2 separate regions of the Homo sapiens genome follow, and region 1 is linked to region 2. The links come from fine-mapping of genetic effects on gene expression. Tissue or cell type: whole blood. Region 2 holds a variant in brackets; the other region holds the start of a gene. All regions are shown on one strand. Distances are from middle to middle.

Evidence for each region. PIP is the estimated chance that this variant, and not a neighbour inherited with it, causes the effect.
Region 1: DDX56 starts here. The variant in region 2 is fine-mapped to the expression of DDX56 in whole blood (TOPMed, PIP 0.96).

What each region holds. Positions count from the first base shown.
Region 1 is chr7:44,569,248-44,577,349 of GRCh38, reverse strand. DDX56 (DEAD-box helicase 56) reads left to right here and starts at 3,442. Exons shown (of 14, transcript NM_019082.4): 1 at 3,442-3,514; 2 at 3,606-3,767; 3 at 4,300-4,460; 4 at 4,606-4,776; 5 at 4,913-5,003; 6 at 5,614-5,858; 7 at 6,473-6,592; 8 at 7,222-7,335; 9 at 7,447-7,541. The coding sequence starts at 3,455. RefSeq lists an enhancer at 3,676-3,825.
Region 2 is chr7:44,638,252-44,646,353 of GRCh38, reverse strand. OGDH (oxoglutarate dehydrogenase) reads right to left here. Exons shown (of 23, transcript NM_002541.4): 3 at 836-1,027. Among named protein-coding and RNA genes, the nearest start is that of OGDH, 36 kb to the right of the region's middle. RefSeq lists enhancers at 414-914, 6,381-6,908, 7,223-7,372, 7,437-7,964, 7,853-7,972 and 1 more. The variant G/C (reference allele first, on the strand shown) is at 4,574.

The DNA of each region.
Region 1 (8,102 bases), 69 kb after region 2:
CTGGCCGGGCACAGGTGATGGGGTCTTGCTCTGTCCCCAAGGCTGGAGTGCAGTGGTGCCATCACAGCTCAAAGCAACCTTGAGCTCCCAGGTTCAAGTGATCCTCCTACCTTACCCTCCCAAGTAGCTGGTACTACAGGTATACTCCACTGTGCCTGGCTATTTTTACTCTTAAAAATACATGTGGGCTGGGCACGGTGGCTCACGCCTGTAATCCTAGCACTTTGGGAAGCCAAGGTGGGTGGATCCCTATAGCCCAGGAGTTCGAGACCAGCCTGGGCAACATGGCGAAATCTTGTCTCTGCAAAAAATACAAAAAATTTAGCTGGTGGCACATGCCTATAGTCCCAGCTACTTGAGAGGCTGAGGTGGAAAGATCACTTGAGCCCGGGAGGTCAAGGCTGCGGTGAGCCATGATCGTGCCACTGCACTCCAGTCTGGGCAACAGTGATCCCATCTGAAAAAAAAAAACAAAAAAAAAAATGCAATTTAGGGCCAGGTGGGGTGGCTCACGCCTATAATCCCAGCACTTTGGGAGGCCAAGGCAGGGGGATCGCCTGAGGTCAGCAGTTTGAGACCAGGCTGGCCAACATGGTGAAAACCCCTCTCTACTAAAAGTATAAAAATTAGCCAGGCATGGTAGTGTGTGCCTGTAATCCCAGCTATTCAGGAAGCTAAGGCAGGAGAATCGCTTGAACCCGGGAGGAGGTTGCAGTGAGCAGAAATCGAGCCACTGCACTCCAGCCTGGGGGGCAGAGGGAGACTCTGTCTCAGAAAAAAAAAAAAAAATGCAATTTAGTTCTCTAGGCTTTTCCATTTAATAGTTTTATATCCTCCTGTTTCTAAATCTGGATGACAGTGTAACACTCCAGTAAGGTGAATTGTGAATTGCTGAAATTCTTCAGATGTTTAAAAGAGTTTTCAGTATTCCTCATGTTAGAATTAATGCAGAGAAAAATTTTATCCTTTGAACTAGTTACATGTTGTGGACTTCTGGCCTGAGGCTCTTGGGGATTATGTGACATATTGGGAAGGGACACATTTCTGCTCTGTGGCTGTTACTAGAAATCTAGCCAGCAAATCAGACTACGTTTGTGAGAAGACAGGAAGGCACAGATTAGGGTTGAGCCAGCCTTCAACAGGTTTGGCTGGCAGTAGACACAGTGGAGCACATCTTAACTATTTTGGTAGGTCCTGGGTTTCTCTTGGTAGTTTTTGATAGAAAGGGGAATGGTGTGAGGAAAAAGTGGGCATACATTTCACCTTTCCACTGATAAGGCAGGTGGAATTGGGATAGTCAGTGGATGGGCCAATAGCTGGTGGCTGTGAGAAGAATAAGGATTTCCATACTGGTGTGTCATATTTACAGATAGGTTGTGACCTAAAAAGTTTTTTAAAAAACAGCAGTTAGGGCCTGGGCGCGGTGGCTCACGCCTGTAATCCCAGCACTTTGGGAGGCCGAGGCGGGCGGATCACAAGGTCAGGAGATCGAGACCATCCTGGCTAACAACGGTGAAACCCTGTCTCTACTAAAAATACAAAAAATTAGCCGGGCGTGGTGGCAGGTGCCTGTAGTCCCAGCTACTCGGGAGGCTGAGGCAAGAGAATGGCGTGAACTCGGGAGGTGGAGCTTGCAGTGAGCTGAGATCATGCCACTGCACTCCAGCCTGGGCGACAGAGTGAGACTCCTTCTAAAAAACAAAAACAAAACCAAAACAGTAGTTAGGGTACACACACACAAATTCTAGTGATTTTCCCCCCAATACTACCCTTGACTTTTGAAATTCTTGCTTTCTCAGAGTTTACAACATCCTTACCAAACAGCCTTCTCCCTCCTTACCACAAAAAAAGAAAAAAAAGTTCTGGGGTTGAGGGGACACTCCATTCTTAACATCCTCTATTATCCCAGCCCAATTCCCCAGCTCTCACTGGGACTAGTTGTACCTATCTTCATCATTTGGTCCCAGCATGACTACCTGTTGGTGCATGAGCTGATCTCTCCTAACCTAACAGCCAGATGCTAGTCTCTGGTACTCAGATGCTGGGCTGCATCAGATAGGATGCACAGGATCATCCTGGAAGCTTGTTGACATAGATTCCTGTGCAACACTCAGATATAGTCTTAATGTAGATTTGTGTTGGGTGGTATGGTAGGTAGAATAATGGCCTACCACTCTGAAACATATGAATATGTTACCTAACATGACAGAAGAGAATTAAGTTGCTAATCAGATGACTGTAAAATAAATTATCCTGGATCATCTGGATGGGCCTAATGTAATCACAAAGGTTGTTTCCTTGCCTTTTCCAGCTTGGCTCTGGCTCCCTTCCTCCAGCAAGGGTGGGTTGAGCTCTCACATGGCACCACTTTGACCTCTTCTGCTTCCCTCTTCTACACTGAAAGACTTATGGGCCAGGAGCAGTGGCTCGCACCTGCAATCCCAGCACTTTGGGAGGCCGAGGAAGGCAGATCGCTTGGCCCCAGGAGTTCAAAACCGTCCTGGGCAACGTGGCGAAACCCCATCTAGAAAGAAAAGAAGAGAAGGGGAGGGGGGAGGGGAGGAGGAGTTACATATATACACATACACACACACACACACGTACGTACATACATACATACACGCTAACTGGACGTGGTGGTGCGTGCCTGTAGTCTTAGCTTTCCAGGAGACTGAGGTGGGAGGACCACTTGAGCCTGAGATCGCGCCAGCCTGGGTGACAGTCAGACCATGTCTCAAAAAAAAAAAAAGATTTGTGATTAGGATTCTTAGTCCTCACCTGTATTATTTTCCTATTGCTACTGTAACAAATTACCACAAATTTACTGGCTTAAAACGACGCAAGTCTGTAGGTCAGAAGTCTGACACGGGTCTTAACTGGTGACCCGAGTCAGATTTGGGACACAAAGAACAGAAACCAAGCTGTGCAGGTTTCTGACAGGCAGTCCGGTTAGGGAGCCCTACAGCAACCCGCCGGTCCTCTCTCTCAGGCAGTTGCTGCCATGGCTCATTATTCCAACCGGTTCTCCTCAGCCCAGTCTATCTCAGTGGCTCCATTCATAGGGTGATGTGCCCGGCGGGACACTAACCCTAACCAAGCAGAGAGACGGTCATGCCCGTCACGACCTCGGCCCTCGCCCCGGCCGAGGCTTCTCCTGCAGGTCGCGAGAATCAGGTGCGTCAGCGGCGTCCGGGAACGCCGGAAGAGCCAGTGGAGCGGCTCTGTAGTCCAAAGTACCCCGTCGACCCCAGCACGGCCGCTCCACCGCCTCCTACTAGACCCAGTCCTAGGGACTGCGCAGTCGCAGAGCTCCGTCCGAGTACCGGAAGCCTAGGCCGCCAGCACTTCCGGGAAGTGACTTCGTCTCCGAAGCCGATTGGTTGTTGCTTTGCTCCCGCTCGCGTCGGTGGCGTTTTTCCTGCAGCGCGTGCGTGCTGCGCTACTGAGCAGCGCCATGGAGGACTCTGAAGCACTGGGCTTCGAACACATGGGCCTCGATCCCCGGCTCCTTCAGGTACACGCGAGGGCTGGGGAGCCGGCTTACGGGCTCTGCGGGGCGCGCCATCGCTCTTCACGCCGCTTAAACCGCACTCCTGGTCTCCTAGGCTGTCACCGATCTGGGCTGGTCGCGACCTACGCTGATCCAGGAGAAGGCCATCCCACTGGCCCTAGAAGGGAAGGACCTCCTGGCTCGGGCCCGCACGGGCTCCGGGAAGACGGCCGCTTATGCTATTCCGATGCTGCAGCTGTTGCTCCATAGGAAGGCGGTGGGTAACGAGAGAGCTGAGGGGAGGAAGGAGGCAAGCTCCAAAAGCCTGGGAAGGGCGGTTCCCGTTTGTCTGAGGTTTTCTCTTGGCCCTGTACCCGTGCAGGCCGGCCTGAGAACCTGGTGCTGTTGTGGCAAACACTCTGGGCTGGAGTTCAGGTTACCTGGATCCTTGTCCGGCCCTGCTACCACCAACCTTTGCGTAATCTTCGACAAAGCACTTTCTTTTCTTTCTTACATAAAAAGGGAGCACATCTATCTTTTCTACTTACAGAATTATTGTGAGAATTTAGCTTCATAACTAGTATATTTAAAGTAGCTTCATAAACATCAGAGTACGTTATTCTTTTTGAGGGTCAGTGCCTGGGGAAAGAACTCTCCACTCTGCATTCTGAGGCGGGCAGAGTGATAGATGATCAAAGTACTGCTAAGTAGTGTTGCAGCAGATGGGTCAGGTAGGCTGGAAGGGGTAGAGACACGTGGACACAGTGATGTGCACTGCTGGCTAAAGTCTTTAATTCATATTCTTACAGACAGGTCCGGTGGTAGAACAGGCAGTGAGAGGCCTTGTTCTTGTTCCTACCAAGGAGCTGGCACGGCAAGCACAGTCCATGATTCAGCAGCTGGCTACCTACTGTGCTCGGGATGTCCGAGTGGCCAATGTCTCAGCTGCTGAAGACTCAGTCTCTCAGAGGTGGGTAAAAGCAGCAAAGCTGTACCTGAATGAAGCTACACAGTGTTGTGGGGTTGGGTTTGTGTGTGGCAAAAAAGAGAGCAAATCCAGGGTGAGATCCCAGCTGCTACATTCTGCCTGATACTGATGTCTTGTCCACCTCCAGAGCTGTGCTGATGGAGAAGCCAGATGTGGTAGTAGGGACCCCATCTCGCATATTAAGCCACTTGCAGCAAGACAGCCTGAAACTTCGTGACTCCCTGGAGCTTTTGGTGGTGGACGAAGCTGACCTTCTTTTTTCCTTTGGCTTTGAAGAAGAGCTCAAGAGTCTCCTCTGGTAAGGCAGAGGTGGGTGTGATTCCTAGTGGAAACATCTGTGAGTAGGAGTTGGGACGAGAGCGGGGTGGCTGGAAGCCAGTTACTACAATTAGCGGCCCTTGGAGCTGGAATCTGATTGGATTCTTTCATTTCAGTCACTTGCCCCGGATTTACCAGGCTTTTCTCATGTCAGCTACTTTTAACGAGGACGTACAAGCACTCAAGGAGCTGATATTACATAACCCGGTAAGAGGCACCATGGAAGTGTCTGGAGCTGCAGACATGGGGGCACTCAAAGATCTTGATGCTCCTTCTTAGGGGATTCTTTGGTGTTTTGGGTGGGACAGTTGTCACTTAGTGTCTCATCCCTGGTCCTGAGGCACTAAAAGCCAGTGGTCTAAAATCACTATATATTTCCAAGTGTCCACAAGGGATGTCTCCCATTTCAGGCCATGCTTTGCCTAAAATCCTGAGCAAGGACCTCCCCTAAGGGGCAGCTTTGAGCAGCAGAGCCAAAATTCTAAGGCCAAGGTTCTCATCTTAAGTAAACTTTACCTTTCAGAAGGCCTGTTGCTGTAGGCCTTCCCTTCTCAATGTAGTCCTTTATTGATGTGTTTCTCTTTGTTCTGTGCTTGGAAGTATTTTATATATGGTTTATATGGTATACTCTATATACCACAACAATAAGGGCATTTTGGGGTTTTAGGTTACAAAACTGGAGGAGAGTTAGGGTGCCAGGAATCCTTAAATGCATCTCTGCCCTGCACTAAAATGTTGATGCTTTGGTTGGTGAGTAAGTGGCCATACATCTCTGTGTTCTTTTCCTTTCTGACCACAGGCCTGTTTTCTCCCCCAGGTTACCCTTAAGTTACAGGAGTCCCAGCTGCCTGGGCCAGACCAGTTACAGCAGTTTCAGGTGGTCTGTGAGACTGAGGAAGACAAATTCCTCCTGCTGTATGCCCTGCTCAAGCTGTCATTGATTCGGGGCAAGTCTCTGCTCTTTGTCAACACTCTAGAACGGAGTTACCGGCTACGCCTGTTCTTGGAACAGTTCAGCATCCCCACCTGTGTGCTCAATGGAGAGCTTCCACTGCGCTCCAGGTCTGCCACAGCCAACATCTTGGTTGAAATAAGTTGAAGATAGAGATGGAAAGGGGACCCAGTTAATGTTCTGTTTCTTAAGCACTTAGTAGGGGCCAGGTTCTAGATGTGACTGATACTGACTTCTCCCAACTCCAAAATACCTATCATGGCCGGGCACCATGGCTTATGCCTGCTGTAATCTCAGCACTTTGGGAGGCCGAGGTGGGCGGATCGCCTGAGGTCGGGAGTTCAAGACCAGCCTGGCCAGCATGGTGAAACCCCGTCTCTACTAAAAATACAAAAATTAGCTGGACATGGTGGCAGGCACCTGTAATCCCAGCTACTCAGGAAGCTGAGATAGGAGAATTGCTTGAGCCCGGGAGGTGGAGGTTGCAGTGAGCCAAGATCGTGCCATTGCACTCCAGCCTGGGCAACAGGAGTGAAACTCTGTCTCAAAAAAACAAAACCCTATAATTATTTCCAGCTGAGGAAACTGAGGCACAATGATTAAGTAGGGAAAGAGATTAAGAAGAGGAAAAAGGAAAGGGTGATGGTTACTGTGATACTAGGGATGGCAGAGGGGCCTTGAGCTTGCTCTGCTGAGCTGATTCTCTGTCCGCTCTTGGCTGCAGGTGCCACATCATCTCACAGTTCAACCAAGGCTTCTACGACTGTGTCATAGCAACTGATGCTGAAGTCCTGGGGGCCCCAGTCAAGGGCAAGCGTCGGGGCCGAGGGCCCAAAGGGGACAAGTGAGTCCATGCCTCTTTTTCCATCCCTCCCCAGAAATGCCTGTGTTTTTAGCTTTTTGGAAGACTAAAACCAGAGTGCACAGAGCAGGGAGCCAAACCTTCCAGGCCTGGCTGGTAGTGTAGCCCAGAGAGCCCCACAGGTTCTTGCTCAGCTGCCTGGATATAGAGAAGGGAGTGGATGGTGCACACTGCACATGCACCACGAAGGGCAAAACTGCCGGGGTTGTTGGCATGCAGAGCCCTGCAGGGGAGATGGCCCATCCTGCATTGGTGGTATGGCTGTGACTTGCAGGGAGCATATTTCTGAAGGGAAAAGGAACCCCCCAACTCTCCAGTCTCTGTCCAGCTGAAGGCTTGACTAGCTCAGAGTTGGTTTTCAGATCACCATGTAGGGCAATGAGTTCTGCTGTTGTCCCAGAACAGAGGTCAGGCCGAGATTTGGGTACATGTCAAAGCTCCAGGCTGCCCCAGGAAACCCTGACTCCTGGAACGGTTCCATTGTTGGAGAGTCCTCTGTATGTCAGGGTCTTATGATCTACAGGCATTTAGAGGAAGTTTTGCTGATTCAGCGTGTGAATACGTGCCCAGAGGAGAGGAAGGGTCCGGCTGACATTGAGTTATCTCTGCAGGGCCTCTGATCCGGAAGCAGGTGTGGCCCGGGGCATAGACTTCCACCATGTGTCTGCTGTGCTCAACTTTGATCTTCCCCCAACCCCTGAGGCCTACATCCATCGAGCTGGCAGGTAGTAGTGTGACGGCCCAGGCATCTGCATGGTAGGCACACTGAGGGACTTGGGGTGTGCTGGACAGAGCCTGCGGGTTGGAGATGCAAGCTGCACTGTCTTCCCTTGCAGGACAGCACGCGCTAACAACCCAGGCATAGTCTTAACCTTTGTGCTTCCCACGGAGCAGTTCCACTTAGGCAAGATTGAGGAGCTTCTCAGTGGAGGTAAGAGCCTGGCTCTTGTGGTCCTGGGCCAGGGTCAGGCTTCTTCCACAATGCTTTAAAACTCCATGATAATGATGACAGAGGTCACAACATAGTGTGACAGGCCACTTCCACCATCCATCCTTGTTCTGCCCTGAGTGGCAGGCACTGTCCCCCTTGAGAGATAAACAAATTGAGGTAATTTGTCCAAAGTTGTGTTTACTGTCTGCCTCATGAGCGTTGAGTGACCTGACAGGCTGCTGTGACAGCTCAGGACAGCACCTGACCCCAGGGTGCTGGGTGGTCCTGGACTGCTCTCTGTGGCCGTCGTCATGGGGGTACCTTGACTCCCAAGGAATACCATGGGGTACTCCTTGGGAGAGGAGAAGAGAGTGGGTGACGGGTTCTTGGGCTTGGGGCCACACAGGCCACCCCCATCCACACACGGGGACAGATGGGTCATCACTGTAAGAGGCCCAGGTGCAGCTAACCTGCATGTTCGGCATCCCAGGAAGGCGGTGGGTCCCCTGCTGCTTTCCCCCAAGGGGGAGGTGCAGGAGGCCTCCAATGAAGACCCTATCC
Region 2 (8,102 bases):
AAACCAAAGCATGAGAGAAAAGACAGCCCAGGGACATGAGTCCCCTTGTTGCCACCAAAGCAGTTACACAAGAACAGGTGGCAGGGTCCTGGATGCCCATGGGAGCTTCCAGAAGGGAAGCACCAGGCTCACTTGTCTCTACCTGTCGTCCTTAGAACTATCACAGATGAAGTCTTAAGATCTGAACTCTAGGCTCTCCCCATGTATCAGGTGGACATCCTAGAAAAACTTTGGTTATTGTGCTCTGGGAAAGGATGGGGGGAAAAACCTTGTCCTGCTCAACACTTGCCTAACGAGACTGGCCACTAACTGCAATACTTTTGGAGAGTTCCCCTGCCCCTCATCACTCTCTGTAGGCTCAGCTGTACCCTCAGCTGCCTCTCCCTGCCTCCACATCCCCAAACTCTATAGTATGGTTTTCTTCTCTTATAGTATTCAGTTGTTAGCAACTGAGAAGGGGGCATCAACCACCCAAAAGCACCACCCCTCCCAGTCACTGCTCACTGGCAGATGGGCAGCACTTCTCCTTGATGCCCGGGTACTGACTTGTTTTCCCTGCCCACAAATATTTCTTGCCAAGGAAGGAAAGGAAATAAGGATCCCTTTTATAAGGCAGGCATTAGTGGTGCTGGGAGATTTGCTCAAATAGGGCTAGCCTGGTTCTTTTTCTTGTGTATTTGTTTTTTAGCCTCCCAAAGCAGGGAGAAAGCACCTAGTATTTGAGGAGGTATAAGTAAAGTGACAACATACACTCAGAAAGGCCAATAGGGCCCATGAGGCATGACCTAAGGAACACTGCACCCTTTCCCGTGTGCGGGTAAAGCACCCGCCTTACCTGATATGCCCTGATGAGCGACTGCACTGCCAGGTGGTCCTCCACGAGCTTGTCCACGTTGGGCTGTGCTTCTACCAGGGACTGTGCATGGGCCACAGCAGCCAGGGAGCCTCGGCTCAGGGGAAGGGGACTCTGGTAGGCAGTGCCCGGTGGGGCTCCGGCATTCGTGTTGCGAAAAAAAATGTCCCATGACTAAAGACAAAGAAGGTACAGGGTTACCTCACTGCTCCCCTAAGTCCAGGATGCATCTGTGGCCACAGAGAACTGCTCTCTGCAGGCAAGGCAAGTCTACCATAGGCTGGCTGAGCCTGCTTCCTCCTGGACAGTGGGGTCTCTGTCTGTTCCCAAACGGTGGGTTTCTCTCAGCATTCAGGCTCCCTGCTTTCCACAACTTTTGTCTTCGGGATGCACTTTCTGACCCCCACAGCTATAACACAGATGCCCTGTGGCCGCCTTCCATCAACACACATAACCCAAAGGCCCAATGCCAACAGCTCTCCTCAGTTCCTATTCACTGGGCCTGGGGACAGATTCAGGATGTAGGTCAACAGAGACACTTACTGTCTCAGCCTTCCCCCCGGCCCCAGCACCTGGGAGGTGATCTCTTGACCTTCTGTCTATAGGTCTGCAAACTCTACCAGTTTTTCTGTGGGATCAAACACCCCATCAAACACCTCCCTCAAGGCCCCAAGGGCTCAGCACAACCTGTGAAGAGCCCAGGGTCACCTTGCTCATGTCCTTTCACTTCCCTGGGAACAAAGTGGAACCTGATCCTTTGTAAGAGGCAGCACTAACCCCACAGAGAAATAATATCATTGCTACCTCAGGAGAAACTCAGGAGCTAAGAGCTCAAAGTGTGGGGTCAGAGATGGAAATTCAAATCTGATCTCTGTGTCAGGGATCAAAATTCAAATTCAAGAGGTAGGCTCTTAGTGAGTTACCTTTCTGTGCTGTTTTCTCATCTATGAGGAGAGAAATATATACATTCTTCATAGGTATGCTGTAAAGACTACCCTAGTTAAAGGCATTAGCACACAGTCTAATACTTCACAAAGTCAGGTGTTAGTTATCAGTTTGAATTTCCTTAGAAAAACTATAAACTAATTTACTTATATTCCTACTATTTTTGGCTATTCCATGTCTGAATTATTTGATTTACAATTTGCAGATACTGTGAACTGTAATGGTTTATTCATCTCATACAAAGATGCAAGTTTTTAAAATATTTAAGAGATCAGACATACTAAGACTTCACAAAAGTTCATTGTAAAAAGAAAAGAAAAGCACAATTAAACATCAGTTTATTTTAATTTTTTTGAGATGAAGTCTCGCTCTGTTGCCCAGGCAGTGTGGTGGCATGATCTTGGCTCACTGCAACCTCCACCTCCCGGGTTCAAGTGATTCTCCTGCCTCAGCCTCCTGAGCAGCGGGGATTACAGGAGCACGCCACCAGGCTTATAATTTTTGTATTTTTAGTAGAGATGGGGTTTTATCATGTTGGCCAGGCTGGTCTCAAACTCTTGACCTCAAGTGATCCACTTGCTTTGGCCTCCCAAAGTGTTGGGATTACAGGCGTAAGCCATCGCGCCTGGCAAAACATCAGTTTAAAAAAAAAATAGAAACATTGTTTTTCTTTTCTGCAATACCTTTTCCAGCCTCTAAAATTCTTCCATCAATAAACTCTGATAAGACTGTCTTGAAAAACTTGGAGAGGCAAGGCAAAACTTTATGAGATCTTTGCATTCTCCTTCTAACAAGATGCCACCCAGATGTGCTCCTTGTCTGGGACATGGCTGGATATCAAATGGGTCTGTCTGAGTCTGGAGACCAGAAGGTAGAGATGGCTACAGAATCCAGTATGCTGGTCCTTAAGGTCTTCTGTTTTTTTCAGACAGGTTCTTTTATAATGCTGGCTAGGGCACAGATGTACGTCACTCAGATGGTCCCACTACCAAGAGCACTGCTATATACTGCTGCTAGACACAAACTAGAAAAGACACAATGATAATGCACAGGCCTGGACCATCTGCCTCATGCAGGGGAGTCTGATCTCTCAGTGAAATCTGTTTTTGAGGGGAGTTTTGTGGAATACTTTTTTTTTCCTTCCCTTTTTCTTTTTTGTAGAATATTTAAAACATTCTATAATAAGCATGTATTTTTTGGTATTCAGAAAAAATAACTTAAAGAAAACAACCACCAGAGATGTGACTGCACAGTATTGTGAACATACTAAAAACCACTGTAGCTGGGTGTAGTAGCATGTGCCTGTAGTCCCAGTCACTTGGGAAGCAGAGGCAGGAGGATCACTTAAGCCTAGGAATTCAAGGCTGGCCTGGGCAATACAGCAAGAACCCATCTGTTAAAAACAAAACTCCACTGAATGGTACACTTAAAAAATGACTTTTTTTTTTTTTTTTTTTTTTTAAAGAAACAGGGTCTTGCTCTGTTGCCCAAACTGGTCTCAAACTCCCAGCCTCAAGCAATCCTCCTGCCTCAGTCTCCCAAAGTGATGGGAATCCAGTTGTGAGTCACCAGGACCAGGCCAAATAATTACATTTATGTTATGTGAATTATATTTAAAAATTTTTTTTTTTTTTGAGACAGAGTCTAGCTCTGTTGCCCAGGCTGGAGTGCAGTAGTGCAATCTCGGCTCATTGCAACCTCTGCCTCCTGGGTTCAAGCGATTCTCCTGCCTCAGCCTCCCGAGTAGCTGGGATTACAGGCGCCTGCCACCATGCCCAGCTAATTTTTGTATTTTTAGTAGAGACAGGGTTTCACTGTGTTGGCCAGGCTGGTCTCGAACTCCTGACCTTGTGATCCACCCGCCTTGGCCTCCCAAAGTGCTGGGATTACATGCGTAAGCCACTGCACCTGGCCTTTAAAATGTTTTTACAAATCAAACTATTTGAGGTTTTACGGTTTTTACCTTTCTGGTTAATTTCTGGTGTATTGTCTGATGTAGAAGACAGATTTGGGGTTCTCTTCTGGCACCTCCCACAAAACCTATTACAGAAGCATCTTATACAAATGTAACCCAACAATCAGGAACATGAAAAAAGGCTGCAAACTTTCCTTTTCTTTCTTTTTTATTTTTTGAGACAGGGTCTGGCTCTGCTGCCCAGGCTGGAGTAGACTGGCACGATCTTGGCTCAATGTAACCCCCACCTCCGGGGCTCAAGTGATTCTCCTGCTTCAGCCTCCTGAGTAGCTGGGACCACAGGCACGCACCACCACGCATGGCTAATTTTTTTACTAAATATTTTTTTGTGGAGATGAGGTTTCACCATGTTGCCCAAGTTGTTCTTGAACTTCTGAGCTCAACTGATCTGCCCGTCTCAGCCTCCCAAAGTGCAAGGATTATAGGCATGAGCCACCATCTGGGCCTAAACTTTCCTTTTCAACAGATGCTATCAAAATGTTTGCTAAAGAAACCCAGGGTTTGGAATCTCCAAAGAGATTCTCACCTTCCTCCATTAAATCGGTTCTCATGAAAACTCAGTGTTCTCCTCCAACATGAGAAAAGGCAGTATTTCCACCAGAGGAAAAAACTGACTTACTCTTAGGAGAGAAAACAGAGGATGTCTCAGCATCAACTCCCTAGGCAAAGTAAAGGCTGCCTCCCACTCAGTCCATGACTGGTTCTGTCAAGGACACAGGGATCTAAAAGGTGGCTGTGCACAAATACACTGGACACCCTCAGGTACTTCTGACTTCATGGAGCTTTTCCAGCAGGACTGA[G/C]AGCTCCATACATTCTAGAAGCAGAGATGACTGGGGACCACATGCATTGGACATCCATCTTCATTGTGAAAGCAGGGATGACCAATGACTGCACTTCTTGGCCTCTACCCAGGCCTCCAATAACTGAGGACCTGACCTAAAAGGAGAAACCCCTTGAATACAGCAGGAAACTGAGCAGGAGTCAGTCTGGCTGTATCCCACCCCTGCACAGCAAGAACCAACAGCAAGCTACCACTGTCACGTAAAACCTAATCAGGCCAGGCGCAGTGGCTCATGCCTGTAATCCCAGCACTTTGGGAGGCCAAGGTGGGTGGGTCACCTGAGATCAGGAGTTCGAGACCAGCCTGGCCAACATAGTGAAACCCCGTCTCTACTAAAAATACAAAAATTAGCTGGGTGTGGTGGTGCAGGCCTGTAGTCCCAGCTACTTGGGAGGCTGGGGCATGAGAATCGCTTGAACCTGGGAGGCAGAGGTTGCAGTGAGCTGAGATCGCACCATTGTATTCCAGCCTGGGCGACAGAGTGACACCCTGTTTCCAAAAAAAAAAAAAAAAAGAAAAAAAAAAAAAAAGAAGAAAAAGGCTGGGCTTGGTGGCTCATGCTTGTAATCCCAGCACTTTGGGAGGCTGAAGCGGGCGGATCACGAGGTTAGGAGATCGAGACCATCCTGGCTAACATGGTGAAACCCTGTCTCTACTAAAAAAAAAAAAAATACAAAAATTAGCTGGGGGTGGTGGTGTGTGCCTATAATCCCAGCTACTCAGGAGGCTGAGGCAGGACAATCACTTGAACCAGGGAGTCGGAGGTTGCAGTGAGCTGAGATCATGCCATTGCACTCCAGTTTGGCGACAGAGCGAGACTCTGTCTCAAAGAAAAAAAAAAAAACCCACAAAAAACCTAATCAAAATTTTTCTTTACCCCAAACTTGCTCCAGTGCTAGAATGTCTACCCTCACACCATGTGACCCGCACCCCAAGTCTAGCTGTAGACACTTACTTAGTTCCCTGGGGCCACAACAGGTTCATGGATAGGGCATGACCCTCAAACCCAGTAAGTACTGGAGAACAGCACAACCCAAACTTTATTAAACCCCTAAAACATTTTCTTCTATTTCGTAAAACCCATTAAGTGTCCAGAAACACAGGGCAAAGTCACCCAAGAGCAAGACCTTAGATCAAGAGTCTCTCCAGCTGTACAGACAGCCTCCTTTATCCTAGGGGACAATATTCACTTTTGGATCCAGAGCCAAAAGTCATAGCAAAATCACAAGTTTACTTCTTTTCAATAAAATTAGCTTTGAATAACAATTAAAATAGTAAAACAAAACAAAACAAAAAAAACCCACCAATAGCAGCAGGGATAGGTATAGCTAACTTTTACTGAGGCTCTCTGTGGGCTTTTCCAACTTACTTAGAGCACCTGGAATGTCAATCATATTCCCACTGGAGAGATGTGGGCTCAGGCAGAATTTACACACAGCAGTCACCAGGCAGGGTATTAATAAGGTTAACTGAGTAATAGCAGAGCGACGCTTAAAGAACTCTGGTCACTCTAGTAACAGTGCCTCTTACCCTAGCTTAACCTTGCCAAAGAGAGCTGGGCGCTTCTGGGCTCAACAATAAAATGAAAGGAATTTCCAGCCACTGATGCCTGGGATCACAAGGTCAGGGTCAAGGTCAGCTCTCTGGTCCTGAGCCACAAAGGCTGCAGGACTCCTTCCAGCCTAGGCCCTGGAGACAGGGCGATCATGATCATCGGGCCTCCACTCTCTGACCTTCTTTTGTGCTTGGAATACAACTCCAGGTGATTTTCAATTGGCTGAGGATAACTGCACAGACGGAAATTCAGCTCATGCTGGAGGCAGTCAGAAAAAAACTGGTTCATACCGGTACTGCTGAGCTGCTGGGAATCCCCGGGAAGGAAAATGCTGGGAATGCAACTTCTGCAGCCTTTCCCTTATTCATCTTACACCATGCATCCCACTTCACTCTCCAGTTGGCTCAGTTCCCACACCACTGGGGGAGCACCCTGCCCCACCTTCAGACAAAGAGCCCATTCTGTCTCCAGGACTGGGTGAGCCCCCACACCCAACAACAGCAAGCCCTCTTTGCGCCAAGACCTGGAGGTATACTAAAAGGTTTTTGAATTGAGTGATAGAATGTTTTGTATCGAGTGTAGTGACTGCACACATTTGGCAAAACCTACTGCACTAAACACTTAAAACAAGTGAATTTTAATATATGTAAGTTAAACCTCAAAAAAGTTTATTTATTCAAAAAGGCTTTGAAAATGAAGGTCATTATTTGGCCTGCAGGCTTCACCTCCCAACAGATGTGGCAGCAGGAAGCCAGACCTGCCCAAGTACCAGAGCTCCCAGGCACCCACTGGCCCCACCCCTCCCTGTATGAGTCACCAATGGGGCCACTTCCTTCCTGGTGGGGCCCAGATGCCACAGTCCATCCCCCACTCTCTTTCCACCTCCCTGTTGTCCTGCAACCCTGTATCTCTCTAACATCTTCCACTCCCCAAGGAGATACCTCTTCTCCAGCTCCTTAAACTACCCACCCCTGCCTCATCCTCTGAACACCTGAATCTGGATCTGCCTTCCATAACCCCTGGCTTTAGGTTCCAGGGGACCTGCAGAGCCCTCCCTGTCCACTTGCTCCCATGCCCCAGCATCATGCTCCTTCCTTCCCGCAGGCCTGGCAGCTACCCTTCTTTCCATGGGATGTTTGTCCTCTCCCTTCACATGGTCGCTTAGCTTTGTCACTATCTGGGAGAGCGTTTCCCCTTCTGATACTCCCAGCCCTTACTGTACACTCATCTCAACCTGAGATCTCTCCCCTGCTGTCTGTCCCCATCCTGGGGGATAAATCAAGACTAGGCTGAGTCATTGACCACCCAGCGCAAACAGAAGCCCCTTCAAAAAGAAGAGAAAGCTTCTGGAAGAGAGAGTCAAAGCATGTCCCATCTAATTCCCATGGAGCATGAAGAGACACCTGGAAGGGATAGAAGCCCACTCACTGAAAGGTGGCACCTGGTGGCTGATGGCTCACTGAGAACCTGAGCTGAGTCAGGCGACCTCAGCTCTCTTACTGAGTGAGAAAAATAAGCCTGTTGGTTTAGGCTGCCTAAGCTGCATTTTCCCTTTCTTCCAGCCAAATTTATTCCTAATTATCCCTTGCTGTTGCCTGGATGTCCCGGAATTGCAGTCTGATGTAGGCAGGGGCAGTGACTTCTACTTCTAGAAACATTCCAAGTGACAAAGCAGAAGTGAAAAGGAGAAAGCACAGTAATGGGGAAAATCAGACTTGAGAATACACAATCTAATAGCATGCTACCATCAAACACACTGAAGACCTAAGTTTCCTATAATAGAAACAGTTTTTCACTCATGAGAAATGGAGGCAGTCAGACTTTGGTTTCTTTATGAAGTAAGTGTGGTATTTGGGCCTTACTTTAGTACTTGGCTCAGGGCGGTGACAGGGACTTCTGAGTCACAATGACGTACGTGGGTGTGCCCAGCTCC